Homo sapiens: one gene and its partners. The protein of the gene in region 1 interacts with the protein of each later gene in a pairwise test. Each region holds a gene or a part of one and is shown in the gene's direction. Other genes may lie near its edges. The genes, in order: PIK3IP1, SLC35A1, MFSD11 and UPK1B.

The links.
Region 2: the proteins of PIK3IP1 (region 1) and SLC35A1 interact in binary tests that used the Homo sapiens proteins (3 or more experiments, as listed by UniProt).
Region 3: the proteins of PIK3IP1 (region 1) and MFSD11 interact in binary tests that used the Homo sapiens proteins (3 or more experiments, as listed by UniProt).
Region 4: the proteins of PIK3IP1 (region 1) and UPK1B interact in binary tests that used the Homo sapiens proteins (3 or more experiments, as listed by UniProt).

The regions. Positions count from the first base shown.
Region 1 is NC_000022.11:31,281,622-31,289,715, reverse strand, and holds part of PIK3IP1 (phosphoinositide-3-kinase-interacting protein 1 isoform 1 precursor), read left to right. Parts: intron 1-16; coding exon 17-217; intron 218-322; coding exon 323-401; intron 402-6,427; coding exon 6,428-6,632; 3' UTR 6,633-8,094. UniProt on the Homo sapiens protein: Negative regulator of hepatic phosphatidylinositol 3-kinase (PI3K) activity.
Region 2 is NC_000006.12:87,503,742-87,511,835, forward strand, and holds part of SLC35A1 (CMP-sialic acid transporter), read left to right. Parts: intron 1-2,640; coding exon 2,641-2,707; intron 2,708-4,678; coding exon 4,679-4,855; intron 4,856-5,299; coding exon 5,300-5,434; intron 5,435-7,657; coding exon 7,658-7,785; 3' UTR 7,786-8,094. UniProt on the Homo sapiens protein: Transports CMP-sialic acid from the cytosol into the Golgi apparatus, functioning as an antiporter that exchanges CMP-sialic acid for CMP. Binds both CMP-sialic acid and free CMP, but has higher affinity for free CMP.
Region 3 is NC_000017.11:76,768,772-76,776,865, forward strand, and holds part of MFSD11 (UNC93-like protein MFSD11), read left to right. Parts: intron 1-974; coding exon 975-1,100; intron 1,101-6,225; coding exon 6,226-6,400; intron 6,401-7,634; coding exon 7,635-7,770; intron 7,771-8,094.
Region 4 is NC_000003.12:119,196,817-119,204,910, forward strand, and holds part of UPK1B (uroplakin-1b), read left to right. Parts: intron 1-2,240; coding exon 2,241-2,324; intron 2,325-7,100; coding exon 7,101-7,151; 3' UTR 7,152-8,094. UniProt on the Homo sapiens protein: Component of the asymmetric unit membrane (AUM); a highly specialized biomembrane elaborated by terminally differentiated urothelial cells.

The DNA.
Region 1 (8,094 bases):
CCCACCTCATCTCCAGAGACCACCTCCCAGGCCCTGCCAGCCTTCACGACAGAAATCCAGGAAGCGTCTGAAGGGCCAGGTGCAGATGAGGTGCAGGTGTTCGCTCCTGCCAACGCCCTGCCCGCTCGGAGTGAGGCGGCAGCTGTGCAGCCAGTGATTGGGATCAGCCAGCGGGTGCGGATGAACTCCAAGGAGAAAAAGGACCTGGGAACTCTGGGTATGACGGTCCCCCACCCCTGCCCTCGTTGGGATTCATCAAGAGATGTCATTTGCTGATTGTCTAGGGTGTGGCTAATGGGACCTTGTGTCCTATCCTTGGCAGGCTACGTGCTGGGCATTACCATGATGGTGATCATCATTGCCATCGGAGCTGGCATCATCTTGGGCTACTCCTACAAGAGGTCAGTAGCTTCTCTTCTGGGCCCTCTTAGGAGGAGGGGAGGAAGGTACACAAAGTCAAACTTTGTGGCTTTCTTACCCAAAAGGAAGCAAGATGTTGAAAATCAGCTCAAGATGTAGAGACTTGGTCCTAGTCTTTATCTGCTGACCTTGGACAAACCCTTTCCTTTGGTGCCTTTACACCTCACTTAAAAGCCTTGTGAGGGATGTTCTTGTTCCGCATTTTACAAATGAAGAAGCCTCTGTCAGAGACTTGCTCAAAGTCACATAGCCTAGGAGTGGCAGAACCTGGATTCAGACCCAGCTCTTTTGATAGCAAATTCCCTGCTGTCTGATCCCACATGCCTGGCATTGAAGTGAGTGGCACTGCAGAAATCAGGCTTGACACTGATTGCAGGGACCTTAAGACCAAATTCTTTCTGTGAGTTATAAAATTCTGCTACTAGAAAAGGTTTCCAGCCACTGTTGCAGTTGAGGCTTAAATTTCCTGAGCTATAAGCAGTGGGATCTCCTCTGCTAGGGAAGAAAAAAGTGAGTTGGAGAACAGAAAGTCTGTTTGCCACTCTTCACCACGTGTGAGAAAGCCAAAGAGGCTACTTGTGAAACTCAAGGACATGACCTGTGGCTGGGACAGCAGGAGAAGAATGCTTATTTTGAAAGGTCCCACGAGATGTCCGTCAGTGACTGGTGCATGATGGTAAGCCAGACTGGCATTCATCTTTACAGCACTGGCTGATTGTGGAAAATTATTTGCCATTCTTGGGCAAAATCGGGGGATTTGACTTCTAGCCCTGGGTGTCTGTAATATTCTCCTCTGTGGTCTGAGAAAACTTCCTGTGAGGAAAGTGACACAGTAGCCTGCATTTTTCCTTCCTTTCCTCCCTCCCTCCCTCCCTTCCTTCCTTCCCCTTTCTTTCCTTCCTTTCTTTGATTTTTTTTTTTCAGGGTCTCGCTCTATTGCCTAGGCTTGAGTGCAGTGGTGCGATCACGGCTCACTGCAGCCTCAACCTCCCAGGGCGCAAGTAATTACCCCCACCCACCCCCACTGAGTAGCTGGGACTACAGGCATGTCCCACCATGCCTGGCTGATTTTTAATTTTTTTATAGAGACAGGGTCTCACTGTGTTGCCCAGGCTAGTCTCAAACTCCTGGGCTCAAGCAGTCCTCCTACCTCAGCCTCCCAAAGTGTATAGGCATGAACCACCATGCCTGGCATGCAGCCTGCATTTTCCAGTGATGAGGGCCATGTCTGAGCCCACAGCCTCAGTGGATCACCCAGCAGGGCATCTTTAAAGGCCTTGTAGTCAACCTCCTCATTACAGATGAAAAAGGGGAAGTTTGGGTATAATAATAACAGCAGTAGCAAACATGTACCGTATGCCAGACACTGCTTGAAGCACATGCTTTAACTCATAATCACCCTTATGAGGTAAATGCTGTCATCTCCAATTTACAGATGAGGAAACTGAGGCAAGAGGGGATTATATACGTTACCTGAGGTTACACACCTAGCATTTGGTGGAGAGAAGTCCTTTAACTAGCTATCTCTGTGACCCTGGGCAAATTGCTTCAATTTCCTACTCCACATCATGGTGTGGAGCTATGGCTTTTGACTACTTAGCTCAGGGTGTGGCACATAGTAGGTGGTCAGTAAATGATGGCTGTTTTTCTTTTCTATAAAATGTGTGGCTGGGCGTGGTGGCTCACACCTGTAATCCTAGCACTTTGGGAGGCCGAGGCGGGCAGATCATGAGGTCAGGAGTTCGAGACCAGCCTGGCCAACATAGTGAAATCCTGTCTCTACTAAAAATACAAAAAATTAGCCAGGCGTGGTGGCGGGCACTTGTAATCCCGGCTACTTGGGAGGCTGAGGCAGGAGAATCGCTTGAACCTGGGAGGCTGAGGTTGCAGTGAGCCGAGATTGTGCCACTGCACTCCAGCCTGGGCGACAGAGCCATACTCCGTCTCAAAAAAAAAAAAAAAAAAATGTAGGTAATGGACCAGGCGTAGTGGCTCACACCTGTAATCCTAGCACTTTGGGAGGCAGAGGTGGGTGGATCGCTTGAGCCCAAGAGTTCGAGACCAGCATGGGCAACATGGCAAAACCCTGTCTCTACAAAAAAATACAAAAATTAGCCAGGCATGGTGGTGGGCGCCTGTAGTCCTAGTTACTAAGGAGGCTGAGATGGGAGGATCACCTGAGCCTGGGAAGTCGCTATGGTGAGCCATGATTGTGCCACTGCACTCCAGCCTGGGTGACAGAGTGAGATGCTGTCTCAAAAAAAAAAAAAAAAAAAAAAAAGTGGGTAATGGACTAGTACTCTCTGATTTCTTATGATGCAGGAAGCAGAGGTCCAGAGAGGGAAAGTATTGACTTGAGAGGACATCCTGACGCCCAGTCTGAGGTTGTTTCCCACAATGGGATGCTTGACATGCAGGTCCAGGGACACCTGCTTGTTCATTTCAGAGTTAATGACATAGTGGCCCTGGCCTTACAATTCATAAGCAGACCTAAGCCACATTGGCTGAGTTTAGTCCTTGAACTATCTCCTTTTTCCTCAGCCACCCAACAGCATTTGGCTGTCCTGCAATCCTGTGACAGTTTCCAGGCCTTCCAGGTGCTTGAACTGACTAAACATTCTTAATTCTGAGCTCAGTTCTGGTGTCCAGTGGAAGTCTTTTTTCTTCTAGATTTGTTCCTCTAGGCTGTCACGAGACTGCCCTGAGGCCTAAAATTTATTTTCCTGTAAACTCAGGGCAAGGCACCCAGTCATCAGACTCCCCGTCACTAACGACCAGATCACCCCTTTCTTCAGCAGAACTGCTCTGAGAACAGACTGTACAACAGGAAACCGCATGTGGGCTTAAAAACAAGCTTGCAGCCTTCATCTCTTCCTAAAGTCAGAGAGCAGAGTGTCCTGAAAAGAGCTGTAGGTTGAGTGTGGGTTCAGGTGCCCTCTGAGCCTTGGTATCTTGTCTGTTAAATGGGGATATATCCTCCCTCCACATCTACCCATCTAAGATTATAAGTATTAAATGTAAACAGAAACAATAGCACACCAATCAGGTAATAATCACAATAGCAGCCAACATTTATTTCATGCTTTCTTAATAAGTAAGGCCCTACTGTATGCTCTTCCCTGATTATCTTTTTTTCTTAATTTTTTTTTTTTTGAGACAGAGTCTCGCTGTGTCGGCTCACTGCAACCGCCGCCTCCTGGGTTCAAGTGATTCTCCTGCCTCAGCCTCCCGAGTAGCTGGGATTAGAGGCACCCGCCACCATGTCCTGCTAATTTTTGTATTTTTAGTAGAGACGGGGTTTCACCATGTTGGCCAGGCTGGTCTTGAACTTCTAACCTCAGGCAATCCACCCGCCTCGGCCTCCCAAAGTGTTGGGATTATAGGCATGAGCCACTGCACCCAGCCTCCTGATTACCTTGACTAAGCCTCACAACCACACTAGGAGCACTGTTAGATTTTACAGTGAGGAGCTGAGACCTAGCAGAGTTAAGTACAATGGCCAGGCTACACAGCTAGTAATGTATGTCTGAGGAGTATTAGTATCTCCAGCAAGTCCAGTGAGGCCAAGTAGCCTCATGTAAATTTGCTTTGAATTGCAAAGGAAAGTAGGAAAAATAGAAATTTAAAAAAAGGCTGGGTTTAAAGTCAGAAGAAACAAGATCTAGTTCTGGAACTTTCACCTATTCTGGATGTGACACTGGACAAGTTATTTACCTTCTCTGGACCTCAATTTCTTCATCTGTACTGTAAGGGGGTTAGATATGGTGATACTCCCAACTCTATTTCCTAAAAAGACAATATTGCCGGTGCTAAGACTGGGTTCAAATCCCAGCTCTGCCATTTGCTTGAACAAATAGTGTAACTTCTCTGCATCTGCCTTCCTATCTATGAAACAGATCAAAATAGATACCACATAGGTTGTGAGGATGAAATTGGACAGTATAGTTTAGGCATACAATTGGTGTTCTATAGCCTGGGAGAGGAAGTTGGAGGCAGCATACAGTAGGGCCTTACTTATTAAGAAAGCAGGAAATAAATGTTGGCTGCTCTTGTGATTATTACCTGTAGCTGCCTTGGGAACTTTTCCTGAGCAGCAGTGTGGCACAGCACTGCCTCTGACTGGGAAAATAGCAGCGGCTCAGAGTAATAATTGAAGACGACCTGTGTAGTCTGAATGAGGTCTGTGGTGCTTCCATACTCTGGGAGAGGAAGTTGGAGGTAGGCAGCAGCTTCCTCTACACCTGCTCTCTCTGGCCAGCTCAGCTCCCAGTCCCACCCTGGCCTTGGAGCAAGCAGTCAGGGTAGGTACTGTAAGCCTTGAGCTCTGCCAAAGGCCATGAGGCTTGCCTAATGGGATGGAGCTTTTCCCTGGCTGGGATGGGTGGGCAGGCACCAGGCTTCCTCTTAGGGAGGGAGGGCTGTAAATGGGGGTGGGTGGGAGCTCAGCCTGGCCGGGTCTTTGTCCTGGTAGTCTAGGCCACGAGGTTCAAATGGCCAGTCTGTGACTGAGGAGCTAAGTGTACTGTCTGCACTAGCTTCAGAGGGAGGTCTTATTTTCTGATAAAAAGGGGAGGGAAAAACTGTAAGTCAACACCACTCCACTCCCTTAGGAGAGGAACTAAGTCAGTGAACAAGCCTTTTGTTCTTTCTTGGCTGCCACACAACACCCAGGCTAACCACCCCCTACCCCCAAGCAGTGAGAAGGGGCTAGGCTGCCTGATGGTCAGTGTAGCAGGCCTAGTGGCCTCTCAAAGGTCACCCAAGGGAGCTGGGAGCAGCCACTGCATCTCTAGGACTCACAGGCACCATTAACAGCAGGCACATGGGATTGAGTGTGCTTCCAGGCTTCCAAATGGATGAGACTAATCCAGACTAGTGCCAGCATCTGCTTTCTTTACCCTTGACTGCTCTTCCAGCCCTGCTCTGCCTCATTAATACAAATTGATTTTTTTCCCCTAAAGACTTGTATATGATGCAGCCTGGCCATTAGCAGCAGCTCAGCTGGCCACAGGTAAAGGAGGTTGCTGAGGAAAGCAAGGCGCGGAAGTTAAACTCAAAAGCCTCAGTTTCTTCATCTATAAAACAGGGATTAGGCTGGGTGTGGTGGCTCACGCCTGTAATCCCAGCACTTTGGGATGCTGAGGCGGGTGGATCACCTGAGATCGGGAGTTCGAGACCAGCCTGACCACCATGGAGAAACCCCATCTCTACTAAAAATACAAAATACTCTGGGCGTGGTGGCGCATGCCTGTAATCCTGGCTACTTGGGAGGCTGAGGCAGGAGAATCGCTTGAACCTGAGAGGCAGAGGTTGCAGTGAGCCGAGATTGTGCCATTGTACTCCAGCCTGGGCAAAAAGCACGAAACTCCATCTCCAAAAAAAAAAGCCTGTAGCTGACATTTAGTAGATGCTTATTAAAAGTAATAAGCATCTCTGGGAGGCTGTCTCACAGCAGGATGATCAGGTCAGTTTTCTGGACAACTTTATGGGTTAGGTCCGAAGTTCAGATAGTTCTCTGGGTCTCTGGGGCTGAAAGAACAAAACTGTGTCTTGCTTTAAGAGTCTCTATCTGGCCAGGTGCAGTGGCTCACGCCTGTAATCCCAGTACTTTGGGGGGTGGGAGGATCGCTTGAGCCCAGTAGTTTGAGACCAGCCTAGGCAACATGTTGAGACCCTGTCTCAACCATAAAAAAAAAAAAAAAGTCTCTGTCCTTTACTTTATTTTCATTGAGCCCCGGTGAAGCTGTATGAAGTCCATACTGCTGTCACCCTATTTTACAGATGGAGAACCTAAGACCAGAGGTGCAGGAGCTTCTTGTTGAGTTTAACGCCGTCTTGCAGAATGGATATCCTAGAATCCTGGACCTGAGTTTGGGTCCTGGCTCAGCCACTGATTTGTTGTGACAATGGCAAGCTGCTGCTCTTGCTGAGCCTCAGGGATGCTATCTAATGAGCAAAGCTATGCAGGAGGCATAGCCTGAATGTTTGTTTGTTTTTTTCCTGCCAGGGGGAAGGATTTGAAAGAACAGCATGATCAGAAAGTATGTGAGAGGGAGATGCAGCGAATCACTCTGCCCTTGTCTGCCTTCACCAACCCCACCTGTGAGATTGTGGATGAGAAGACTGTCGTGGTCCACACCAGCCAGACTCCAGTTGACCCTCAGGAGGGCACCACCCCCCTTATGGGCCAGGCCGGGACTCCTGGGGCCTGAGCCCCCCCAGTGGGCAGGAGCCCATGCAGACACTGGTGCAGGACAGCCCACCCTCCTACAGCTAGGAGGAACTACCACTTTGTGTTCTGGTTAAAACCCTACCACTCCCCCGCTTTTTTGGCGAATCCTAGTAAGAGTGACAGAAGCAGGTGGCCCTGTGGGCTGAGGGTAAGGCTGGGTAGGGTCCTAACAGTGCTCCTTGTCCATCCCTTGGAGCAGATTTTGTCTGTGGATGGAGACAGTGGCAGCTCCCACAGTGATGCTGCTGCTAAGGGCTTCCAAACATTGCCTGCACCCCTGGAACTGAACCAGGGATAGACGGGGAGCTCCCCCAGGCTCCTCTGTGCTTTACTAAGATGGCCTCAGTCTCCACTGTGGGCTTGAGTGGCATACACTGTTATTCATGGTTAAGGTAAAGCAGGTCAAGGGATGGCATTGAAAAAATATATTTAGTTTTTAAAATATTTGGGATGGAACTCCCTACTGACCTCTGAGAACTGGAAACGAGTTTGTACAGAAGTCAGAACTTTGGGTTGGGAATGAGATCTAGGTTGTGGCTGCTGGTATGCTTCAGCTTGCTGGCAATGATGTGCCTTGACAACCGTGGGCCAGGCCTGGGCCCAGGGACTCTTCCTGTTTCATAAGGAAAGGAAGAATTGCACTGAGCATTCCACTTAGGAAGAGGATAGAGAAGGATCTGCTCCGCCTTTGGCCACAGGAGCAGAGGCAGACCTGGGATGCCCCAGTTTCTCTTCAGGGATGGATAGTGACCTGTCTTCATTTTGCACAGGTAAGAGAGTAGTTAGCTAACCTATGGGAATTATACTGTGGGGCCTTGTGAGCTGCTTCTAAGAGGCTAACCTGGAAACTAAGCTCAGAGGCAAGGTAATAAAGCACTTCAGGGCTTGCTCCCCAAGTGGGCCTGATTTAGCAGGTGGTCCTGCGGGCGTCCAGGTCAGCACCTTCCTGTAGGGCACTGGGGCTAGGGTCACAGCCCCTAACTCATAAAGCAATCAAAGAACCATTAGAAAGGGCTCATTAAGCCTTTTGGACACAGGACCCCAGAGAGGAAAAAGTGACTTGCCCAAGGTCGTAAGCAAGCTACTGGCATGGCAAGAGCCCAGCTTCCTGACGGAGCGCAACATTTCTCCACTGCACTGTGCTAGCAGCTCAGCAGGGCCTCTAACCTGTGATGTCACACTCAAGAGGCCTTGGCAGCTCCTAGCCATAGAGCTTCCTTTCCAGAACCCTTCCACTGCCCAATGTGGAGACGGGTTAGTGGGGCTTTCTATGGAGCCATCTGCTTTGGGGACCTAGACCTCAGGTGGTCTCTTGGTGTTAGTGATGCTGGAGAAGAGAATATTACTGGTTTCTACTTTTCTATAAAGGCATTTCTCTATATACATGTTTTATATACCTCATTCTGACACCTGCATATAGTGTGGGAAATTGCTCTGCATTT
Region 2 (8,094 bases), on another chromosome or scaffold:
GTCTGTCACATTTTTTGCCAAACATTATCTCTATGGAATTCCCCTCATCACTTAACATTAGGAGTCCTTTCAGTAAGGAAATCTGGTATGTTTCACACTTGGTGAAGTCACACTATTTTCCACTGATGACCATTAAGCTTTTTAAGTACAAGTCATCTCTAAATCTGTTCTAACATTTTGCTGGTAATCAATGTAACAATAACAGCTGCAATCATTTATAATGCACTAAATACTAGCATTATCTAAATGCTTTATATACACTAACTCACCTACTTTTCTTGATAGTCTTTTAAATTTATTTAGCTAGGTAGTCTAGGCGGGGAGAATTGCTTGAGCCCAGGAGTTCAAGACCAGCCTGGGTAATATAGTGAGACCATGTCTCTACAAAAAAATTTAAAACTTAGCTAGATGTGGTGATGCATGCCTGTAGTCCCAGCTACTTGGGAAGCTGAGGTGGGAGGATCACTTGAGCCGAGGAGGTTGAGGCTGTAGTGAACCATGATTATACCACAAGATCCTGTCTCAAAAAGAAAAAAAAAAAAAAAAGCTTTCTTTAATGCCTTACAGGATTTTTTGCAAGCCTCCACTTATTCTGAGTTTTCGATTTCTTGATACTATTCTTAAATTCCTGGTTAGATTCCTCTTGGTGATCTGTACTTCGGCTTTGTTCTTGTAAAATCAGAATTCAGTGAAGATGCCCTTATTTAGATATGTTGATTTCCTTATGTATTCTTTTTTTTACTTTTCACCAGAACCTCCTTCTTCAGTAACTCTTAATCTCTCTTGAATGTTCTTCTCACGAGCCATGGAATTCTAACTTGAAGTTTTACATTTTTGAGTTTTGATTTATTCAGGACTGGAGCACATGTCTCTTAACTGTGCTGTGTTTGGCTCATGCTCAGATCACATGGTTGCTTTCTGCCAAAGTTCCCATCACATCTACTTCATCACCCAGCAGTTTCTTGTCAGAATCAAGTCCAGATAAGCTGTTTCCATCACTATTTTTCCTAACTGTAGAGACATTCAACTGGCAGGAAACTAAGTCAAGAATTTATCAGGCACTCTATTTTTAGCAGTTGGAGCTTCCCAGCAGATGTTGGGATAGGTGGTATCTCACACTATGATTTTATTCTATCTATGCCAGTCTTGAAATTTGTATTATAGGAAAGTATACTTGTTAATAATGTATAGTCTATAGCAGTGGTTCTCAAACTTTAGCGTACATCAGAATCAACTGGAAGGTTGGTTGAAACAGATTGCTAGGCCCATTCCCATAGTTTATGGTTCAGTAGGTCTGGGGTAGAGCCTGACAGTTTTTATTTCTAACAAACCCCCAGTGGTGCCACTGCTGCTGATCCAGGGTCCATACTTTGAGAACCACTGGTCTACAGTGTCTTCTGTTTCTCCTTTTATCTTCATGCAAACAATTTAGACCAAGCTTGCTCTCTCAGGTACCATAAAGTGGCACTTTTCTTATATCAGGCTTATTTATTTTGAACAAGGTATATACTTCCTTGTCATATTACAGTCATGAATCTCAACCCTCTAATTTCAGTGATACTATTGAGATAGTATTTATCTTTCAGGAAAGACTGATGAAAGCTCCTGACAGTTTAGAAAAGAAAGAGAAAATAAAGTGAAACAGAGGGTTAGGACCCATATACTTGGATCTGTGAGCACTGGTCTCACACTATTTTGGTTATATATACTTGTCAATTTTGCCTATACATAACAGAGCTGTGTATTGTAATCTTCTTTATTCATTTAGTATGTATCTTAGTCCATTTTCTGCTGCTATAACAGAATACGCAGAGTGGGTAACTCATAAAAAACAGAAGTTTATTTGGCCCATGGTTCTGGAGGCTGGGAAGTCCAGAACACGGTGCTGGCATCTGGTGAGGCTCATTCTATGGCAGAAGGCAGAAGCGATCCCATGTGACAGAGGGAAGTGGGCTGAACTCATCCTTTTTATCAGAAACCTGCTCCCTCAATAACTAACTCATTCCCTCAGTAATGGCATCAATCCCTTCTTGAGGACAGAGCCTTCATGACCTAATCATCTCTTAAATGCCCACCTCTTAATACTGTTAGAACGGCAATTAAATCTCAACATGTGTTTTGAAGTTGACATTCAAACCACAGCAGTGTGTATAGACAATGTATCTGGTACACAGAAGGTATACTAAAAATTCAATAAATTGGGGAGTCTTAAGAGGCAGCACTGTATCCTGTAGGTGATGAGGAATAAATAAGTTAAATTGTTATCATTTTCAGGATTGATGCTATAAGCTCTTAAATTAGAGTGATAATAGAAATTAAAATTAAGTAGTATGCTGACTTGGCCTGTTCAAAAGTTCATGCTAGAGTGCTTATTGGTATTAGGAAACAGTGGGCACATATTATATTAAGCATATACTATGGCTGTGATTTGAGGGACACATTTTTCACTTAAGCCAAGTGCCCTGGTTAATTTCTGGAATGGTCTTTTTGTTTAGTTGTCTTATTCTGTAGAATAGCTGTGTCTGATGTGGAATATACTTTTAGTAAGACTGTAACAGGTTTTTGTATTTATTTGTTTGGACTCTTGGATGAACTCTGTTTATTAGTCACTAAAAATAACTTTAACAATTAATATTGCAGGTGGAACAAAATCCATTATTAGGGTTTGGCGCTATAGCTATTGCTGTATTGTGCTCAGGATTTGCAGGTAAATCATGAAAGCATTGTTTTATTCTTTTGTCATATTTTTCGAAAACATCAAACTTTAGACACCAGTCTAGTTTATCTTGCTTTCTCAGTTTTATTCCCATTAAACTTGATCTTCTTGCTTATATTTAGTTTTATGTCAGCTGTTTTTCCAGTAAATGTATAGCATTGTTCAACTAAGTTCAGACTCAGTCCCTATTCATACTTGCAGTTAACTACTTCTGTTATCCTTGACCATCTCAGTCCGGCCAAAAACCCAAAAGTAAATGAAAAAAGACTTCTGAAAATGGAGGAAATTAGTCTTCAGAAAGCCCTTTCCTTTTTTCTGGAACTGCCACTATCAAGTCAGATCCTGCTGCTTTAGGTTGTTAATGTTACCAGCTAAGTATCTTTTTTTCCCCTATAACCTCAAGTTCTTTCTCTGCTTTAACAGGTTAGGAGCTATGGAGTAGGATCATGAGGTGGGTCGAGAGTACCTTAGAAAACATAATACATAAAGCTAATAACCAAACAGGGAGGAAAGACAACACAAAATCACTAACATCAACAATCCACGGAAGTCTGGCGTTGTATGTGTAGGGACAAGCACTCCTCCAATGCATCAAGATAAGAAAGTATGAATATTAAGTGTAACATAAAAAAAGTTTTAGAAATAGTTCCAGCAGAGATTTAGTTTTTAATATATTCTGCTTAAAGCTTTTAGTAGAATATATTAGTTATAGCTATACATCTTTATTATTTATTTGTACCTATTTCAAGTCAGGACTATTTTTGACTAGGAAAGCAGGCTGAATACAGAAGTAAAATACTGCTTGTAAATAAGATGTTTTATACGAGGGGAAAATTTAAATTCAGGAATATACTTACTGATAGCATTGTGTTCTAGAAACCAACAAATTGGGAACAAAAATTGAGTTACCTAAAAAATATGCTATTTGATTTTTTGCAATATTTTGAACAGTTAAATGATTATGTCCAACATTTTATTAGTTCACTCTCTTAATACACAATTGAGGAAATGGAGGGTGGTTTAATATCTCTCTGTGTTTACGGTAACTGAGCACTGGATAAATGCTTCTCCCAGAAGGTAAAATCAGAGGTGAAAATAAGAATAGCTATTTTATGTTCCCATTCCAACAGACTCATCAAAAATAATCTTGTTTTTCGTTAGACTTTTTAGTTGATAAGTACTTCATTGGCAGTTCCTAAGTCTCTAGCATGATATTTATAACTAAAATCTTTAATGGCTTTGTAAAATATGCATTCATTTTAAGCATAAATCCAGAGATAGGGGACTTTTGTTGGGGAGGGGTATCATGTACTCCTTTGAAGTATCTGAAAAAATCTATGGACCTTCAACTCCAGAAAAATGCACATATACACAAAATTTATTATCCAGTTGGGGAGTTCATGATCCTTCTGACCTTGTGTATGAACTTGGCTTGTGGAACCCTGCTTTAAAGGAAAATGGCTTTACACAGCAAATTCTACTTCAGTTTTGGTTGTTACTCTGAAAAGATTCCTAGTGGTGATTATAGATTATATTGCAGAATTAGGAGTATTCATTAGTAGGCAGATATTACAGGGATGTGATTAAGATAATTCACTCTTAATGTAGTTTTTCAGCTGACCAAAGCAAATGACATACTGGCATTAAGTAGTACAGAGAGCTTTTGTGGTCTTACTGCTCTAATAAAGGCAGAAACTGTCTTAATTTAACAGCCTTCTGTTAAATGTAGCTTATAAACTTCCCAATTAGTTATTATTCTATATACTCTGTAAAAACATAAATTTATAATGTACAGTATGTCATGTGTCACACAACCTACATAATAAATGCACATTTAAGTAAAGTATGTTTTGTTCCCCAAATCATATACTTTATATATCTCTAGGGTATTGTTCTAAATGAAAGACATTTTAAGTTAATTTATAGTAATCTTTAATATTTGCATGTCTAATTTTCTTTCAGGAGTATATTTTGAAAAAGTTTTAAAGAGTTCAGATACTTCTCTTTGGGTGAGAAACATTCAAATGTATCTATCAGGGATTATTGTGACATTAGCTGGCGTCTACTTGTCAGATGGAGCTGAAATTAAAGAAAAAGGATTTTTCTATGGTTACACATATTATGTCTGGTTTGTCATCTGTAAGTATCCAGGAATTAAAGGTTCTTAGTAGATCCTTTATTTTTTTTTTAAGTTAGATGTCCATTTTAAGCTGTTATAACATTTTGAAATTAATCCTTTGATACTGTAAATACCAGTTTGAATATAATTTTCATTTTGTTGACTTAGTTTTGATTGTGAAGGCAAAATTGCTTTGGGATAGCAATGCCCCAAAATATCTAACATTAGCAAAAAATGTGTAAAATTTAATAGACCACATAGCCCTCTGGGCATTGTTTTGGAAAAACAGTGTTATATAGGAACTACCAATTTTAGTACAAACTCTCAGATGGCTCCTTCTAAGGAAAACAGTATTTTCCTTTTCCTAGGTAAAGTATGGCATCTCTGGGGATGAAAATTGCCTCACCATTATGTAATGTTTCATTTATTTGAGTGATAAGATTTTATTTCTCTCTGTATACAAGTTCTTGCAAGTGTTGGTGGCCTCTACACTTCTGTTGTGGTTAAGTACACAGACAACATCATGAAAGGCTTTTCTGCAGCAGCGGCCATTGTCCTTTCCACCATTGCTTCAGTAATGCTGTTTGGATTACAGATAAGTATGTCTTAGTTTGTGTTGAGTTTTTAACATGGAAGAGCCTCCCATTTCCTTGATTCATTTAATCCCTTATTTAAAAGTGGCAGTTGGTCATACTGTTTACAGAAATTCCTAGCTTTGTTACTACAGTTTATTCCACCAGTACAGCTGTTCATAGTTGTGTGGGATGTGGCTAAGCAGTACTTTGGTTGTTTAGGTGGTCTTAGAGGTTAAGACGAGGGGTGCTAGTTCTATGTGAAAGTGAGGGGACTTTTTTTGCAGTCAAGGCCTCCCTGTATTTTTAGGTATTGTATATAGGACAACTTGAGTGTCTGAATGTGAGAAGGTACTCAAGGAAATACATATAAAGACTTTAGGAAATTATTTTCAGCAGTCAGTTTAAACTATATTGGCTCATTATTTAGAAGAATGTAGAAAACATCTTTTAGTCCTCCCTCAGCTTGTACTTTCCAACTGCTTTGCATTTGGGTGTGAGACGGTTTTGAAAACAATCAAAATCTAGATTTTGTCTTTTGTATCTTTGTTTCATTCAATATGTAATTAATACAAAACTCATTAATATAGCTGGCATTCCAGTACCACTGCTTTGTTAGTCCTAATATAATTTTCCCAACTCTCACACCCAGCATTAATTTGGCTTCTAAATTATTTAAGCAATGATATTGACTTAACATTTCAGGGTGCTTTTATAGTGTAATAATTTTCTTTACTGATCAATTATTATAATATAAACCAATGTATGAAGAATATCTGTTAAATATATTAAGTAAAAGAGACCTGGCTTATATTTACATTTCATTTTAAAATTGACTCCTGTATATAAATGGAAATAGTGTTGTAGAAATTTTAGAAAACCATGTATAGTCTGTGGCAAATCTTGCCTGTACCATTTCTTAACTGTGCAGCCTTGGGGAAGTTATATTCCCTGGGTGACACTTTCTTCATCTGTAAAATGGGAATAATATCACCTATTGCCTAGTGGTGTTTTCAGGTGAAGTGCTTAGAGTAGTGTTTGACACTACTTACCAACCACTTACCATTTCAGTATCAGGTACTTATAGGCTTTCCCTTAGATGTTTTTCTACCTGATTTGGGTGAACTTTTAGCTGTAATTCTGATCTATCTTTATGTTCAACAAAATCCTTATACCATTGCTCATAAGAAATATATAGGAACAGTAGAAAATGCTTTTGTTTAATGTTCTTACTGATGGTCAACTAGCATGTCTTAGCAATCTTTCAGTTAACTGTTTAGATACAAGTTTTTATCCTACCTTCTCCTTTTTTGAAGGCAAAGCTGGTCTTTTTTAGTTAGGAGTGAACTAAAATAAAGCTTGATGTCATATAAATATATTTATTTGTCAAGTTAGGACAAGTTATGATTTGGTTTCTTGCATCCTGATTTTTAAGATTAAAATGAAAAAAGGTGCCGGGCATGGTGGCTCATGTCTGTAATCCCAGCACTTTGGGAGGCTGAGGCGGGTGATAACCTGAGGTTGGGGACCAGCCTGACCAACGTGGAGAAATCCTGTCTCTACTAAAAATACAAAATTGGCTGGGCACGGTGGCGCATGCTCCTCCCGGCTACTCGAGAGGCTGAGGAAGGAGAATTGCTTGGACCTGGGAGGCAGAGGTTGCGGTGAGCCGAGATTGCGCCATTGCACTCCAGCCTGGGCAACAAAAGCGAAACTCCGTCTCAAAAAAAAAAAAGATGAAAAAAGGGTTAAGACTAGTAGGAAATGTAGTTTTATTCAGTAAATTATCGCCTCATCTCCGATTAAGAAATTATCAATGGTTTGAATGATTGGTCACCTGTCTTTTACTCTAAACTTTCACAGGTTCCTGGTTGTCACGGAAAAGCCAATCCTACCACATTTTCTTTTGTACTTATATATATTTATACTTACATTTAAAAAAAATTATATATTTTATAGGGAAATTAGTTATGTTCTTTGTCAGAGTGGTCAGATAGTGTCAGTTAGGCATACTCATGTTCTAAAAAGTCTGTAATCAGTGATCAACAAAACACTGCCTTGATTTTACCCGCCCTGCCTCCCCCTCTCCTTTTTTTTGGCTGTAATGGAAGACCTTTCTAAACCTTGCCATCATAAAAATATGATCTGATAGTGTAAACCCACAATTAAGAGTTTTCAAAATTTTAAACTGATCATTAGGCATTTTAAAGACACACATACAGATAAAGCTATTTTTTTTTTTCTTTTCAGCACTCACCTTTGCCCTGGGTACTCTTCTTGTATGTGTTTCCATATATCTCTATGGATTACCCAGACAAGACACTACATCCATCCAACAAGGAGAAACAGCTTCAAAGGAGAGAGTTATTGGTGTGTGATTTTAGCCTCACGTGAGACTCCTTTTAAGACTAAACCATTTGCATTAAACTAGAGCCTTAAGTCAATCTCAGAAGGTAGCATAAACAAATAAAAATTAACTGTATGGCATGATCAGTGCGGTTATGTGGAAACAACAACAAACAAACGAAGCTATCTGAGTGAACTGCTAATACAGAAACTTAATGTAGACCTGTTTGGGGTCTACTATTGTTTTAGAATGAAGGAATTGTATTATTGTGTGTATATATAATTTGTAAATAAAAAGTATGGAGATGATACGGTGTTAAAAAAAATCATGGTAAGGCTAC
Region 3 (8,094 bases), on another chromosome or scaffold:
GTCAGGAGTTCGAGACCAGCCTGGCCAAAATGGTGAAACCCCGTCTCTACTAAAAATACATAAATTACCCGGGTGTGGTGGTGCATGCCTGTAATCCCAGCTACTTGGGAGGCTGAGGCAAGGAGAATTGCTTGAACCTGGGAGGCAGAGGTTGCAGTGAGTTGAGATAGCGCCACTGCACTCCAGCCTGGGCAACAGAGCAAGACTCTCTCTCAAAAAAAAAAAAAAAAAAGAATGTTCCTGTTTCTTTGGAAAGCTACTAACAAGGTTAATGAGCATGTTAGTCTTCACTGTTACAAAGTTATGTTAATTATCACCTCTGCCCATCTCCGCCTGCATGGAGAGTGATAGGTTTTAACATAAGGATATCTGTTCATTTGAGTTGTATACTTTTACCTGAAATATATGGCAGATGCCGTCTTGTGGTATCTTAATTTTAGCTGCTATAACAAATTTCCATAGACTGTGTGGCTTAAACAACAGACACTTATTTCTCACAGTTCTGGAGGCTGGGAAGTCTGAGAGCAGGATGCCACCATGCGCAGCTTGTGGTGTGGGCTGTTCCTGGTTGTAGACAGCTGCCTTCTTGCTGTGTCCTCCCATGGCAGAGAGCAGACAGGAAGCAAGCTTTTTGTTGTCTCTATTTATAAGGGCACTAATCACATCGAGAGGGCTCCACCCTCATGGCCTAATTGCCTCCAAAAGGCCCCATCTCCAAATACCATCATGTTTTGGGGAATTTGAGTTTCAATATGTGAATCTGGGGAGGACACAAACATTTAGTCCATAGCATGAAGCTAATTCCATTTCATCAGTTACATCACATTATGCTCTGCTTGGGGATTAATATTTCAGTCTCTGTGAGTTTTATGTGTTTTACTACGCAAGTATTCTTTCGTCAGATACTACTAGATGGGAAGATAAACAAAAATGTGAATATATAAATGACATCTGTTTTTTTTCTTTAACTAAAGGTCTGGAATTAACTTTCTTCTCTGGTGTATATGGAACCTGTATTGGTGCTACAAATAAATTTGGAGCAGAAGAGAAAAGCCTTATTGGACTTTCTGGCATTTTCATCGGCATTGGAGAAATTTTAGGTTGGTTTTAAAAAAAAGCGTTTGCATTAAAAATATCAGTTTATTATAGGTAAAATAGAAATTTTAAGTGTGCTTCACCTTTGTCCTTGAATTTCTGTTTTTTCTACTTATTTTTACCCAAACGTGTGTTTTTATTTTTCTATTATTGCTATTCTTTTTCTTTTTTTTTTTTTTTTTCCAGACAGAGTCTCGCTCTGTCGCCGAGGCTAGAGTTGGAGTGCAGTGGTGCGATCTCAGCTCACTGCAAGCTCCGCCTCCCGGGTTCACGCCATTCTTCTGCCTCAGCCTCCCGAGTAGCTGGGACTACAGGCGCCCGCCACTATGCCCGGCTAATTTTTTTGTATTTTTAGTAGAGACGGGGTTTCACCGCATTAGCCAGGATGGTCTCGATCTCCTGACCTCATGATCCGCCCACCTCGGCCTCCCAAAGTGCTGGGATTACAGGTGTGAGCCACCATGCCCGGCCTATTATTGCTATTCTAATATAACTAAATTATAAAACATTTGCAAAATAATTCACAGATGGAAACCCTGTGTAAGAAAACATACAATGTCTCCCGACTTTTCCTCCTAAAATATTTAGAAAGTCTTGGAATTCCTGACTCTGGTTCTCTGATTCCCTGTCACCAACTGGGTGTCCAACAGCTCAATCCTGTTCTAACACTTAACTCTCCAAAGTTAGTGTCAGATTCCACAGGTTTAAGGGTTCAGTCCTACAGACAGACAGTCTGGGTCCATAGGCCTCTCAGGCACACCTCTCTGACTTGGGTACAAATTTGGAGGTTCCCATAGCCCTCTTCCCCCTTCATGTTTGATAATTTGCTAGAGCAACTCACAGAACTCAGGAAAATGCTCTCCTGACTATTAGAGTTTATTATAAAGGATACAGATGAGCAGCCTGATGAGGAGGTGCAAAGGGTGGGGTCTGAAAGGGTCCCTAAGTGCAGGAGCCTCTGTCTCCATGGATTTTGGGCTCACCACTCCAGAAGCTCCTCCAACCCTGTTTAGGGGGATTTATGGAGATCCTGTTACATAGGCATGCTTGATTAAATCATTGGCCACATGGCCGGGTGCAGTGGCTCATTCACTTTGGGAGGCCGAGGTGGGAGGATCACTTGAGCCCAGGAGTTCGAGATCAGCCTGGACAACATAAGGAGACCCTGTCTCTAACAACAACAAAAAAACAATCATTGGCCATTGGTGATTGATTTAATCTCCAGCCTTCCCTCCCTGAAGTGGGAGTGAAAGGGGCCTGGAAGTTCTAGCCCTCAGGGCTTGGTCTTTCTGGGAACCAGCCTCATCCTGAAGCTCTATCCTAGGCCAACCCCTCTCTCCCCAAGGGTTGCCCCCTTAGCGTAAACTTCAGTATGGTTGAAAGTGGCTCTTTCTGAATAACTAATGTCCCTCGTATCACTGAGGAAATTCCAGGCCTTTTAGGATTTCTGTGCCAAGAACTAGCAGCAAAGACCAAATATGTATTTTTATTATGCTCCACGAGTTATTCTTTGTTCAACAAAGATTTGTTCAGCACTTGCAGTATATTGAATATTGTGTTAGATATGAGGAACTTCAACAAAGGTTTATTGTAATCTGTCATGTCAACAAAATAGACAAAAATACCTGCCCATATAGAGCTTATATTCTTGAGGAAGAATACAGACAATAAAAACAGAAATCTTTGTATGTCAGGCAGTGGTAAGCACCATGGGTAAAGCGGACTTTGGAGGGTTTGTTTGTTTTTGCTTTTTGGCCCCTGCCTTATTGCCAACACCTGGAGCAGGACAAGGTCTATATTGGGCATCCAATAAATGAGTTAAATGTGTTGAATGAATAATGAGAACATGGTTTCAGCAGAACTTAGTAACCAGTTGCGTGGTGGTGTGAGGAGAGATGTCTAGAATGATGACCAGGTTGATCAGAGTAACCTGGGCAGAGAGAATGCTGTAGGAGATGGGGTTTGAGGAAATCTGCTGAATGGGATTTTGAACACCTCTAAGTACCAGAGAGGCACCCAAGTAGAGAAGTGTCCAGTGGGAAATGCAGGCTGATGCTCAGGAGGGACTCGTGGGCTGGAGGTTGATGTTGGGAGTTATGGGTATGTAAATGGCGGGCGAAGCTTAGCCATGGTGAGTCAGTGCAGGGTTGTCTTCTCTGGTAAGTGCTTGTTTAGTGTCTGCCTGTAGACTACCTGGGAAGAAACTCACTTTCTGTAGGCAACCTGCTTTTTTGAAAAAAATAATTTCAAATTGATAAGAAATTGCGAAAATAGGCCAGGCACAGTGCTCACGCCTATAATTCTAGCACTTTGGGGAGCTGAGGTGGGCAGATCGCTTGAGTTCAGGAGTTTGAGACCAGCCTGGGCAACATGGCAAAACCCCATCTCTACAAAAAAAGTACAAAAAAATTAGCCAGGTGTAGTGGCGTATGCCTGTCGTCCCAGCTACTTGGGAGGCTGAAGTGGGAGGTTGCAGTGAATCCAGATCACACCACTGCACTCCAGCCTGGGCCACAGAGCAAGATTCTGTCTCAAAAAAACCAAAAAACCAAAACAAAAAAAGAAATTGCAAAAATAAAAATAGTACAATGAACATCTGAATATCCTTTAACAGGATTCATCTATTGTTAACGCTCTACCTTAGTAACTTTTTTTTTTTTTTTTTTTTAAGGACAGAGTCTTGCTCTGTTGCCCAGGCTGGGGTGCAGTGGCTCGATCTTGGCTCACTGCAACCTTCGCTGCTGGGATTCAAGCAATTCTTCTGCCTCAGCCTCCCAAGTAGCTGGGACTACAGGCAACCGCTACCACGCCTGGCTAATTTTTGTATTTTTAGTAGAGATGGGGTTTCACCATGTTGGCCAGGCTGGTCTCAATCTCCTGACCTCTTGATCCACCCACCTCGGCCTCCCAAAGTGCTGGAATTACAGGCATGAGCCACTGCACCTGGCCCTCCTGTCAGTATTTTTGAGCTTTGTTCTTAGATGTAGTTCATTTAATTGAAAACAGCATACCTTTTAAGATTTGTTGGGCAGGACTGGAGCATTACTCAGTCTAGGGCTAATTATTTCCTGCTTCTAAGGGAAGACCCTTCTGTGTGCTCCACCCAGTTCCTGTGAATCATAAGCTTTTAAGTGGCTGGTGGGACCAGACACTATACCCAGCTGAGGGCGGGGCCCTAATACCACTAATCCTCTTGGCTGGTTCTTTCCCAGACTTCTGCTAATTTGCTCACTTTATGTACTGATCAGTCCTCAGCTGAAGACTCAGGGGGACTGTCTGCAGCTCTCTGGAATTGTTTTTCTGTGTAGCTTTCCTTTCTGATACCGTTGTCTGTGAACTCTGGTCACCCTGATATCCCTAGAGTCACATCCCCGTCTCTTCAATCCATGGGGGCTGCTGGCCTCCGCCTGGGTTCTTTCTCCCTCTGCTGCCTACTCTTGAGAGGAACTGCCAGATATTTTCCAGAGTGGCTGTACCAGCAATGTGTGAGTGATTCCGTTTTTCTGAATCCTTGCCAGCACTTGGTGTTATCACTGTTTTTGATGTTAGCGATTGTGATAGATGTGTAGTCATGTTTCATTGTGGTTTTACTTTGTCTTTAATGGGTAATGATGTTGAGCATCTTTTCATGTGTGTATTTACCCTCTTTATATCTTCTTTGGTGACGTGTATGTGCATATCTTTTGCCCATTTTCTAGGCAGGGTTTTTTTGTTTTGTTTTGTTTTTACTGTTAACCTTCACTTTTTAAATTTTTTTTTTCCAGACGGAGTCTCGCTCAGTTGCCAGGCGGAGTGCAGTGGCGCAATCTTGGCTCATTGCAACCTCCACCTCCTGGGTTCAAGCGATTCTCCTGCTTCAGCCTCCTGAGTAGCTGGGACTACAGGCGCACGCCACCACGCCCAGCTAATTTTTGTATTTTTAGTAGAGACAGGGTTTCACCATGTTGGTCAGGATGGTCTTGATCTCTTGACCTCGTGATCTGCCCACCTTGACCTCCCAAAGTGCTGGGATTACAGGCGTGAGCCACCATGCCCAGCAACTTTCTAAATTTTTTTAAATTATTTTTTTATTTTTTTGAGACAGAGTCTTGCTCTGTCACCCGTGCTGGAGTGCAATGACATGATCTTGGTTCACTGCAACATCTGCCCCCTGGGTTCAAGTGATTCTCCTGCCTCTGCCTCTTAAGTAGCTGGGACTACAGGCATGTGCCACCACACCTGGCTAATTTTTGTATTTTTACTAGAGACAGGGTTTCACCATGTTGGCCAGGCTGGTCTCGAACTCCTGACCTCGGGTGATCTGCCCGCCTTGGCCTCCCAAAGGGCTGGGATTACAGGTGTAAGCCACTGTACCTGGCCCACTTTTTAAAAAATATATATACAATTTTTTCTTTCTTTTTTTAAAAAAGACAGCGTCTTGCTATGTTGCTGAGGCTGGTTTGGAACTCCTGGCCTCAAGCAATTCTCCCACCTTGGCCTCCCAAAGTGCTGGGATTACAGGCATGAGACCCTGCACCCAGCCATCCTTCACTTTTGATATATAGGTTTGCTGGTATCGATTTCTGGGGTAGAAATCACTTAAAAATTATAAAGGTCTTCTTCCTTTCAGTTACAGAGTTCTCCTCTTCTCACTCTTGAGGATTCTCCTCTCAGCTTTTGAGATATCCTAGCTGTTCTGGCTGCTGACTCTTCCTAGGCCTCTCTGACTCCCCTTCGGAGCTCACACATAATTCTCAGAATCCATAGTGACTGCCTTTCAGTGTGATACCTTGGCTTGTTTGGCTATGATTGCAACAAAAACGTGGTCATAATGACAAGTTGTGTCCTTATTTTATTTCTGTTATAAGCTACAGGTCAAAGGGGATAGCTTGTGGGGTACAATAATTCACAGAGAAGAAATACAAGAATGTTCCTGGATAGAAATGCAAGTCATTTTGATACCTTACTTTTTTGTTCTAATAGTTGATGCTTGGTCATCATTATCATTGTCTGCAAGTGCTGAGGTGTTGGGTTTTTTGAAGAAATTTAACAAGTGAGAATGTTTATTCCTTGGCTCCTTGGTGGTAACTCAGGCCTGGGTATGTGATGTTTCGGCAACATTAGTGACGTTTCTGCCATCTTGACTTATAGGTGGAAGCCTCTTCGGCCTGCTGAGCAAGAACAATCGTTTTGGTAGAAATCCAGTTGTGCTGTTGGGCATCCTGGTGCACTTCATAGCTTTTTATCTAATATTTCTCAACATGCCTGGAGATGCCCCGATTGCTCCTGTTAAAGGAACTGACAGCAGTGCTTACATCAAATCCAGGTATAGTGGCTGTCATTTCTCTAGTCGCTTGAGTACGGGTGGGAGGTAACGGATGGCTAGATACTGAAAGTGGAGCAGTTAATCCTCTTCAGAGAGCCTGGTGTCTCTCTAAGGTCATCTGTCAAGTGTTCATGGAGTCAGACTGAGTTTAAATAGGAATCCTTAGAGAATCCTAAGTTATTTTTGTAATAGTTGGTTTTAACCTTTTCCCCCACTAAATCTTTTTCTTGATCCTTGAAGGAGCACGTAAGTATCTGATTTGAATTTTTTATCTCTGCTTCTTAAGCAGTGAAATATCCAGACATTAGGGCCTGGAGGAAGAACAAAGAGGAGCGAGGGAGAACCTGGCAACCGGGGAGGCCATTCAGTCCTTCCAGAGCAGTTTATATAACGTTTGAGGATATCGGTTTAGTGCACTCAACTCTCAAGTTCATTATAAACGCAGACATTTATGTCCAGCTCCACAAATCCAAGGGGAGCCCAGCCCAAAAAACTATACAAACTGAGTATATCGCATCTGAAAATCTGAAACTTTTCAAGGGCCAACATGATGCTCAAAGGGAAGTGTTATTAGAACATTTCAGGTTACAGATTTTCAGATTAAAAATACCTAACTGGTCAGTGTAATGCAGATGTTCCAAAATCTGAAAAGAAAATTTGAAACACTTCTGGTCTTGATAAGGGATACTCAACCTGCATTTTCTTCACAAATGGTTGAGACCAGAGTTTGTTAGAATGTAAAGGTGTGTGCATTTGAGCAAAAATTCTTACTTTGTAAATTCTAGTCTTTATGTTTTATTTTTATTTATTTATTTATTTATTTTGAGACAGAGTCTCACTCTGTCTGCCAGCCTAGAATGCAAGTGGCGTGATCTCCGCTCACTGCAACCTCCACCTCCGGGGTTCAAGTGATTCTCGTGTCTCAGCCTCCCGAGTAGCTGGGATTACAGGCACGCGCCACTATGCCCAGCTAATTTTTATATTTTTAGTAGAGATGGGGTTTTGCCATGTTGGCCAGGCTGGTCTCAAACTCCTGTCTTCAAGTGATCTGCCCACCTCAGCCTCCCAAAGTGCTGGGATTCCAGGTGTGAGCCACCGCACCAGCTTTGTCTTTATTTTTGTTTCATAGTGTTTACAACTTGCAGGTAGAATTCTTTTGTGGGTGGGTTGCTTGTATATTTTAAATGGCTCTAGCAGATATTGCTCATACTAAATTGATTTTTATTTTCTTCAGCAAAGAAGTTGCCATTCTCTGCAGTTTTCTGTTGGGCCTTGGAGACAGCTGCTTTAATACCCAGCTGCTTAGTATCTTGGGCTTTCTGTATTCTGAAGACAGCGCCCCAGCATTTGCCATCTTCAAGTTTGTTCAGGTAACCTCTTCAGATTGTGATTGTGTTTGACATAGGGCTCTTCCCTTTGTGTATTGCCTTGTTTTCCTTGGTTACTTGTATTGTGGTTTTAATTTTTATTTATTTATTTTTATTTTTTTGATAGAGTCTCTCTCTGTCACTCAGGCTGGAGTGCAGTAGCGCAATCTTGACTCGCTGCAACCTCCGCCTCCCGGGTTCAAGCAATTCTCCTGCCTTAGCCTCCTGAGTAGCTGAGATTACAGGTGCACACCACCATGCCTGGCTAATTTTTGTATTTTTTTTTTCTTTTTAGCAGAGGCAGGGTTTCACCACGTTGGTTAGGCT
Region 4 (8,094 bases), on another chromosome or scaffold:
AGTGAGCCACCGTGCCCAGCCTGGTTTTTGTTTTGTTTTGTTTGAGAGACAGGGTCTCACTCTGTCACCCAAGCTGGAGTGCCATGCTGCAATCACAGCTTATTGCAGCCTCAAGCTCCTGGGCTCGAGTGATCCTCCTTTCCACCTCAGCCTCCCAACTAACTACAGGCATGTACCACCAGGCCTGGCTAATTTTATTTTTTGTAGAGATGAGGTCTCACTGTGTTGCCCAGGCTTCACTTTTTGACAACCATATTGTAGGTTTTCAGGATCTACAATGCACAAATGTGCTGCTATAGCTGTGAAGACTAACAAAATTAGGGAAGTCACTATAAGCTTGTTAATAGTAGAAATTAACTAGAATTTCACACAGCATGTCAGATGCAAATATATATATATTCTATGTTATGGTTTATGTGACTCAGAAATGCTATGTGCAAATTGTGATCACTATACCTCAAAAATGTTATAATAAAATGAAGGAAGATCAAGTAAAGTACCACTAAATTGACTAGCATCACGAAAAGGCACTAAATGATGGTGAAAAAAATGGGGCTTCTGTCTGTGAGCTTCATGAAGGCAAGGCCCATTTCTGTTTGCCACAGCTAAATGCCCAGCCAGTACTTGGCACCTGGCATAAGTGGGCCCTTATATATATATTATTAGATGAACGACCACCTCCCAGGATTGTTGGGAGGACCAAGGAGTAGCAGATATGGGAGTGTTTTGTGAACCATCAAGTGTGTTGCAAATTATACTATTGTAAACATTAATGTTCCATTCATTCTGTAAATGTTTATTACGTGTCTACTATGTGCCAAGCACTTGTTCTAGGTTCTAGAAATTCAACAGTGAACAACATAAAATCCCTGCCCTCATGGAGCTTGCATTCTAGCATGGGAGACAGAAAATAAACATGTTACCAAACAAATACATGATAAAATTCCAGGCCCAAATAGGCCATGAGCAGAAATAAGGCAGGGTGAGTATATAGAGTAGGATGGAGAAAGGGTCTTTTTCTCTGTCACTGTCAGGAAAGGCTTTGTTGAGATGATATTTGCAGAGGTTTGAATTAAGTGAGAAAATGAGACACCGGAAGATTGGGGAGGAAAGTTCTACAAGAAAGGAGTTGTGAGTGCAAAGGCCCTTAAGTGGGAGCAGGCCCAGCTTTTTGAAGGAGCATAAAGGAGATCAGTATGACAAAGTCAGAATGAGTGAAGGATGAGTAGATGACAAGGATGGAGCTAGATTTTTTGTGGCTGGAGTCCCCCACCCCCACCCTCACACACAAATTATAGGGAAGGATCCTTCTTAGGAAAAACAATAAAAATATGCATACAAAATTAGGCACAGGGCCTTGAAAGGGTCTTGCAAGTAAGGGGCCCTGAAGCTTAAGCTCATTCGCTTTATAGAGAAACCTCCTCTGGTAGTGGAAGATGGGGTGAGAGGCAGAGCCGCATGGTCCATGGAACCAGCCCTGGTTATTGCATTTCCTAGGCATTCCCTTTGGTTCCCAGAGCTTTGGTAGAGGCTGCTCAGATGGCAGCTCTAGCCTTACATGCGTGTATCACTCCAGAACTTTGCACAGTGACTAGGATAGAGTGCGCCATGTATAAATACTTACTGGATTGTGGCATGCATGAATGGATGATTTGGTGAATAAAAAAATTATTCCTTTGCATGCTCACTGTGACCCTTCAAGGTCTCACTAGAATCCAGTAAAGATATGTTGAAATATAACATCAAATGAGAATTCAGGGAGCATAATGCAGGAGTTCCTTTAATGATTATTAAAAATGGCAACAGGGGACCTCTGGTTTTCATGGACAGAAGCATTTTTATTCAAAAACAAACAAATCAAAAAGTAACTGCCTCCAAATAAATCACCAACGAAGCCTTTGGGGAGGGAAAAATTCTAATTGAATTAAGATTTTTGAATTTATTGTCCACATATTCAGTATAGAAAGAGGGTTATGCTAAAATAGCAGTACTTTTTAGTGAGATTAAGTGATAAAGACACAAATAAATGTGTTGTGGAATCATTGTTCAACAGTATTGTTTATGTTCCCTTAGTAAAGCACTATTAGTAGCTGGCTGTCCTCAGAGATGTGGAAATAGCCTGGATATGTGAAATCAGAATTTTGAGTAGCATTGATTCCAATAGGAACCTGCTTTCCCATCAATCTCTTCTCTGCTTTCTGGTTCTTCTCACACTAATGTGGAATTGCCCACTCCTTCAGGGCTGCTATGAACTGATCTCTGGTCCAATGAACCGACACGCCTGGGGGGTTGCCTGGTTTGGATTTGCCATTCTCTGCTGGACTGTGAGTATTTCCCAGCACATATTTTATCTGAGAGGATGATCATACGGAGAGACCTTGAGAGTGCCACTGGTTACCTCAACCACACTAGAAAGTCTAGAAACAAAACCTCAGGCCTGAAGGCTAGTCAGGAAACTTCTGGCACCGGAAGAAGGACAGTGGGTTCTCTTGAGAGGCAAGGAGTTAACTTCCCCTACCAGGGAAAGGCTGTGCCCTGCCAACCAGCTCCTTCTTCCGGCTGATGGGCAGCTGCCTTTAGAGGGCTGGAGAGCCTCTTTCCCTTGCCAGAGTTCTTAGTGAACTGCTCCTCCTGGTCTCCAGATCTCATTAATTCATTTCATCCACATATCAAAGACTGTCACCTATCTAGATGGCCCCTGCCTGATACTAATATGCCCAGATCCTTCTAAAGAGCTGCCTCTGGCAGATTCATCCTTTCCTACTGCCCACTTTATCTGACGCATATGCAGCAAGAGGTTGGAGCGGTGGTTCTCAGCCCTGGCTACACATTAAAACGCCATGGGGAAACTTTTTTTAAAAATTGCTTGGATCCCAACCTCTGAGACTTCGATTTAGTTGACCTGGGGGTTGAGCCAAGGCACTTTTATTTCCCCCAGATGATCTGCTGTCAGGGTTGACAACCATTGCCTTAGAGAAGCAGTCACAAACTTTTGATTTCAGAACCCCTTTACACTCTCAAAAATTATTGAGGACTCCAGAAAGCTTTTCTCTATGTGGCCTATATCTATTGGCATTTACCCCATTGGAAATTAACATAGAAAAATTTAAAATATTTATTTTAAAATAATAAGCCCATTAAAAGTTATCACAACACATTTTTGTGGAAAAACAACTATTTTATAATAGTGACTTTTTTGCAAATCTCTTCAATGACTAGCTAAATAGAAGACAGTTAGATTCTCATATTTGCACCTTCATTCAATCTGTTGTAATATGTTGCCTAGGTTGAATGATCTGGAGAAAATGCATCCTTCATATAGACATGTAATTAAAAAAATAGTGCTTTAATAATATTCACCCAGTAGCTGGGACCACAGGTGCACACCATTGTGCCTGGCTAATTTTTTTATTTCTTGTAGAGACAGGATCTTACTTTGTTGCCTAGGTTGGTCTTGAACTCCTGGCCTCAAGCAATCCTCCCACCCTGGCCTCCCAAAACACTGGGATTATGGCCATGAGCACTGCACCCAGCCCACAAGTAGTAGCTTCTTAAAGATCAGTTGCAATTTGGAATCTGAAATTCTGTTAATGAGCTTTTCATACTCTGTTATGTTAAAATATATTACATTGGTTTGTCTTGCACTTTGCATATATCTTTCAGCCATTTATAATTCTATAACATCATAGATTGCTTATTTGGAAAAAATATTAGTTCATTGTGTTATGCAGATCTTCCAAATGTTAACTGATTTATGTATGCAATATCCAGAAAATCACATGTGGCATTGATATTGCCACATGGAAAATACCTTAAGCAATGGAATGCTATCAAGTTCACGGTGACAACTACAAGTTTTCCAAGGTTCTGATTTTTGCTTGAAAGTTCAAATTTATCATTGGCAATGAATATTGTCAGTTGTTTTCCTTGAAGTGACAGACTCACTTTGTAAATTTTCAAGAAAATATCTGCCACATGTCCAAGTCCAAACAACCATAGCGTGTCTGTTCATCATTTTTTAAAGTAAAAGTGGTGTTTCCTTTTAATCATGCAAGTGCTTTTAAGACAACCATATTACACTATGCAACAGACTGTTTTATGAATGAATACTTCCTTTCTGTCATGCAGAATATTTAAAAAGATGTGTACTCAAAGGCCAAAATGTAATAAAATTAGTAGTTCTTACTGCTTCATTGAGGACAATCTCAAGTGAAACTGGCTTTTTAAATTTTTTTTTTTTACTGCAAGTGCGTAGCAGTGAAGACACAATGATCACTAACAAAGTTTAGTGACTCTGCCTTGATTCTTGCTAATACTCCAGGAGTTTTACTTCCCACTGCATTTACACCATCAGTGCAAATATGAAAACAGTGAAAAAGGCAAATAAATTCTCATTGTTATTCAGATAGCCTTACATAATGGACTTCTGAACTGTCCCTCAGGTGTTTACTATGTGTATTAGTCCATTTTCATAGTGCTATGAAGAAATACCCAAAACTGCATAATTTATAAAGCAAAAGAGGTTTAATAGACTTACAGTTCCACATGGCTGGGGAGGACTCACAATCATGGCAGAAGGCGAAGTAGGAGCAAAGGCATGTCTTACATGACGGCAGGCAACACAGCGTGTGCAGGGGAACTGCCCTTTATAAAGCCATCAGATCTCATGAGACTTATTCCCTATCACGAGAACGGCACAGAAAAAAACCCGGTCGCATGATTCAATTATTTCCCATCGAGTCCCTCCCATGACATGTGGGGATTATAGGAGCTACAATTCAAGATGAGATTTGAGTGGGGACACAGCTAAACCATATCACTATGCTTTAAGAAATGCTAGCTTAGGGGGTGATAAACTGAGTGAGGCAGGAAGGAGAGGGAAATCAACTCCTTCAAGGGGTCTTTTATGATCCCTCAACCCAACCTGTTAGGAGCTCTCACAACATCCTGAGCACACCTCTATGATGGAACTTCTCCATGATGATGTATTTGACTGCAAAAAGCTGAGAACTAGCTGTTCTTTGTACCCCCAGTGCCAAGCATAGCATGTAGTAAGGGCTCAAGCATTTGTTGAATGAATGAAAGGTAACAGTGAAGTTTCTATTTGTGCCATATTAGCAGGAACTGTGGGATAATGTTTAAAGGCTTTGAGTATCTTAGAACTCCAAACCAGTTGTAACCCTTGATTTTCCACAAGTATCAAATAAACTCTAGATCTAGTTAATTCCCTCTTGAAATTCAAAAGAGGGAAGGGAAGGGAAGGGAATTAAATGATTAAATGTATTGAGGGCCTGCTATAAACAAGGTACCATGTCAAATATTTTTAATATTAAATCCCCACAACAGTAGCTAAGCAGGTAGCCAGTGTCCTGTCTTACAAGGAGCAGAGAAATTCAGTGGGGCTCTCAAGAATTGTGCTTAATAAGAGCTCTTAAGCATGCCCATTTCACTGTTGCTTGCAAGGGGCTTTTTCTTAGTGATTAACTAGATAAGCTCTGAAGCTGACTGCTTGGGTTTGAATCCCACCTCCACCACCTACTAGTTCTATGACCTTGGGTAAGTTACTTCTCTGTGCCTCCGTTTCTCCATAGGGTTTTGGAAGCATTAACTTCAGTTATATGGGTAACACTTAGAATAGTGAGTGATGCATAATAAGGTATTCTAATAAACATTAGACCCTGTTATTATTTCATTATCTCATTCACTGCTCTAGCTTGGGGTAGGTAGAGATGTTATATTTATTTTATAAATGTAGAAACTGAAGCTCAGGAAATTTAAGTGACTTGGCTAAAGTTACCCAGGAGTAAGTACCAGATCTAAAACAGAGCCCAAATAAACTAAAATAAAACTCAGCCCTTGCCTAAGTCAGATATCTTGAGTTCTGTGGCATTCTTCAGAGGCAGCCATTCCAGGGCACAAGCATTTTAGGAAAAAATAGAAGTTCCCTGGGAGAAGTTTAATACTAGAAGCAAGGAATGCTTACCCCGAAATGGTACATACTAGAAACAGGAAGGCATTGGAGGATAAGTGGCCTTGATGGCAAAAAGAGTTTAGCACAGACGAGAAGGGCAACCCCAGAAGACAAGGAATCTAGGATGAGAACTGGGATCAGAACGTGGGGAACACAGAAGTTGCTTCTGAGTGGCAGGTAATAAGTGATGCTTTGGAGCAGGATGGATTTGGTGTCACATCTGGCCCAGTGATGTTGCTTATAACGAGATTACTCTTAAAAATCTGATATCTAGGCCAGGCGTGGTGGCTCACGCCTGTAATCCCAGCACTTTGGGAGGCCGAGACGGGCAAATCACGAGGTCAGGAGATCGAGACCATCCTGGCTAACACGGTGAAACCCCGTCTCTACTAAAAATACAAAAATTAGCCGGGCATGGTGGCGCGTGCCTGTAGTCCCAGCTACACAGGAGGCTGAGGCAGGAGAATGGCGTGAACCCGGGAGGCGGAGCTTGCAGTGAGTCAAGATCGCGCCACTGCACTCCAGCCTGGGCGACAGAGCGAAACTCCGTCTCAAAAAAAAAAAAAAAAAAAAAAAAAAAATCTGATATCTAACAAAGACATGGAACCAACCCAAATGCCCATCAGCAATAGACTGGATAAAGAAAATGTGGTCCATGCACACTATGGAATACTATGCAGCCATAAAAAGGAATGAGATCATGTTTTTGCAGGGACATGGATGAAGCTGGAAGTCATCATCCTCAGCAAACTAACACAGGAACAGGAAGCCAGACACTGCATGTTCCCTCTCATAAGTGGGAGTTGAACAATGAGAACACATGGACAAAGGGAGGGGAACAACACACACCAGGGCCTGCTGAGGGGTGAGGAGTGAGGAGAAGGGAACTTAGAGGATGGGTCAACAGGTGCAGCAAACCACCATGGCACACGTACATCTGTGTAACAAACCTGCACGTTCTGTACATGTATCCTGTTTTTGTTTTGGTTTTTTAGAAGAAATAAAAACAAACAAACAAAAAAATCTGTTGTCACCTAAGCCTGAATGAACCTAACATCCACTTTTTCCAAGAATGAGATGTTTCTAAAACAATCCCTTGTTTATTTTTCCTTGTTTTTTTCTATTCCAGTTTTGGGTTCTCCTGGGTACCATGTTCTACTGGAGCAGAATTGAATATTAAGCATAAAGTGTTGCCACCATACCTCCTTCCCCGAGTGACTCTGGATTTGGTGCTGGAACCAGCTCTCTCCTAATATTCCACGTTTGTGCCCCACACTAACGTGTGTGTCTTACATTGCCAAGTCAGATGGTACGGACTTCCTTTAGGATCTCAGGCTTCTGCAGTTCTCATGACTCCTACTTTTCATCCTAGTCTAGCATTCTGCAACATTTATATAGACTGTTGAAAGGAGAATTTGAAAAATGCATAATAACTACTTCCATCCCTGCTTATTTTTAATTTGGGAAAATAAATACATTCGAAGGAACCTGTGTTATCACAGTAACCCAGAGCTGTATTTGGCTAGCAATCTGCCTGTATCTCTCACTATTATCTAAAAGAAACCTTCCAATGCTTCTGTTGATCTCAGTATTGTCAGGGGAACAGAGAAGTTGGGAAAAGATTACTGAAATATACCTTTTGCATTTCTTTCTAGAGTAGCTCCCATATATGGAGATGGGTGATTCTCTTGATGCCACCTTCAGATCCTTTTATTCTCCAGAATAATTCTTAACAGTGGTTCAAATTTCCTTTCATACCTTGAAGTATGTGTTTAGTAGCCTCAATTCTCCATTAATTAAAAGTGTGGGCTGGGCGTGGGGGCTCATGCCTGTAATCCCAGCACTTTGGGAGGCCGAGGTGGGCAGATCACCTGAGGTCAGGAGTTCAAGACCAGCCTGGCCAACATGGTGAAACCCCGTCTCTACAAAAATACAAAAATTAGCCAGGCGTGATGGCAGGTGCCTGTAATCCTAGCTACTTGGCAGGCTAACGCAGGAGAATCACTTGACCGGGAGACAGAGGTTGCAGTGAGCTGAGATCGTACCTATTGCACTCCATCCTGGATGAAAGAGCCAGACTCTGTCTCAAAACAAACAAAAAAGCGTGGGGACTTCTGGGGACA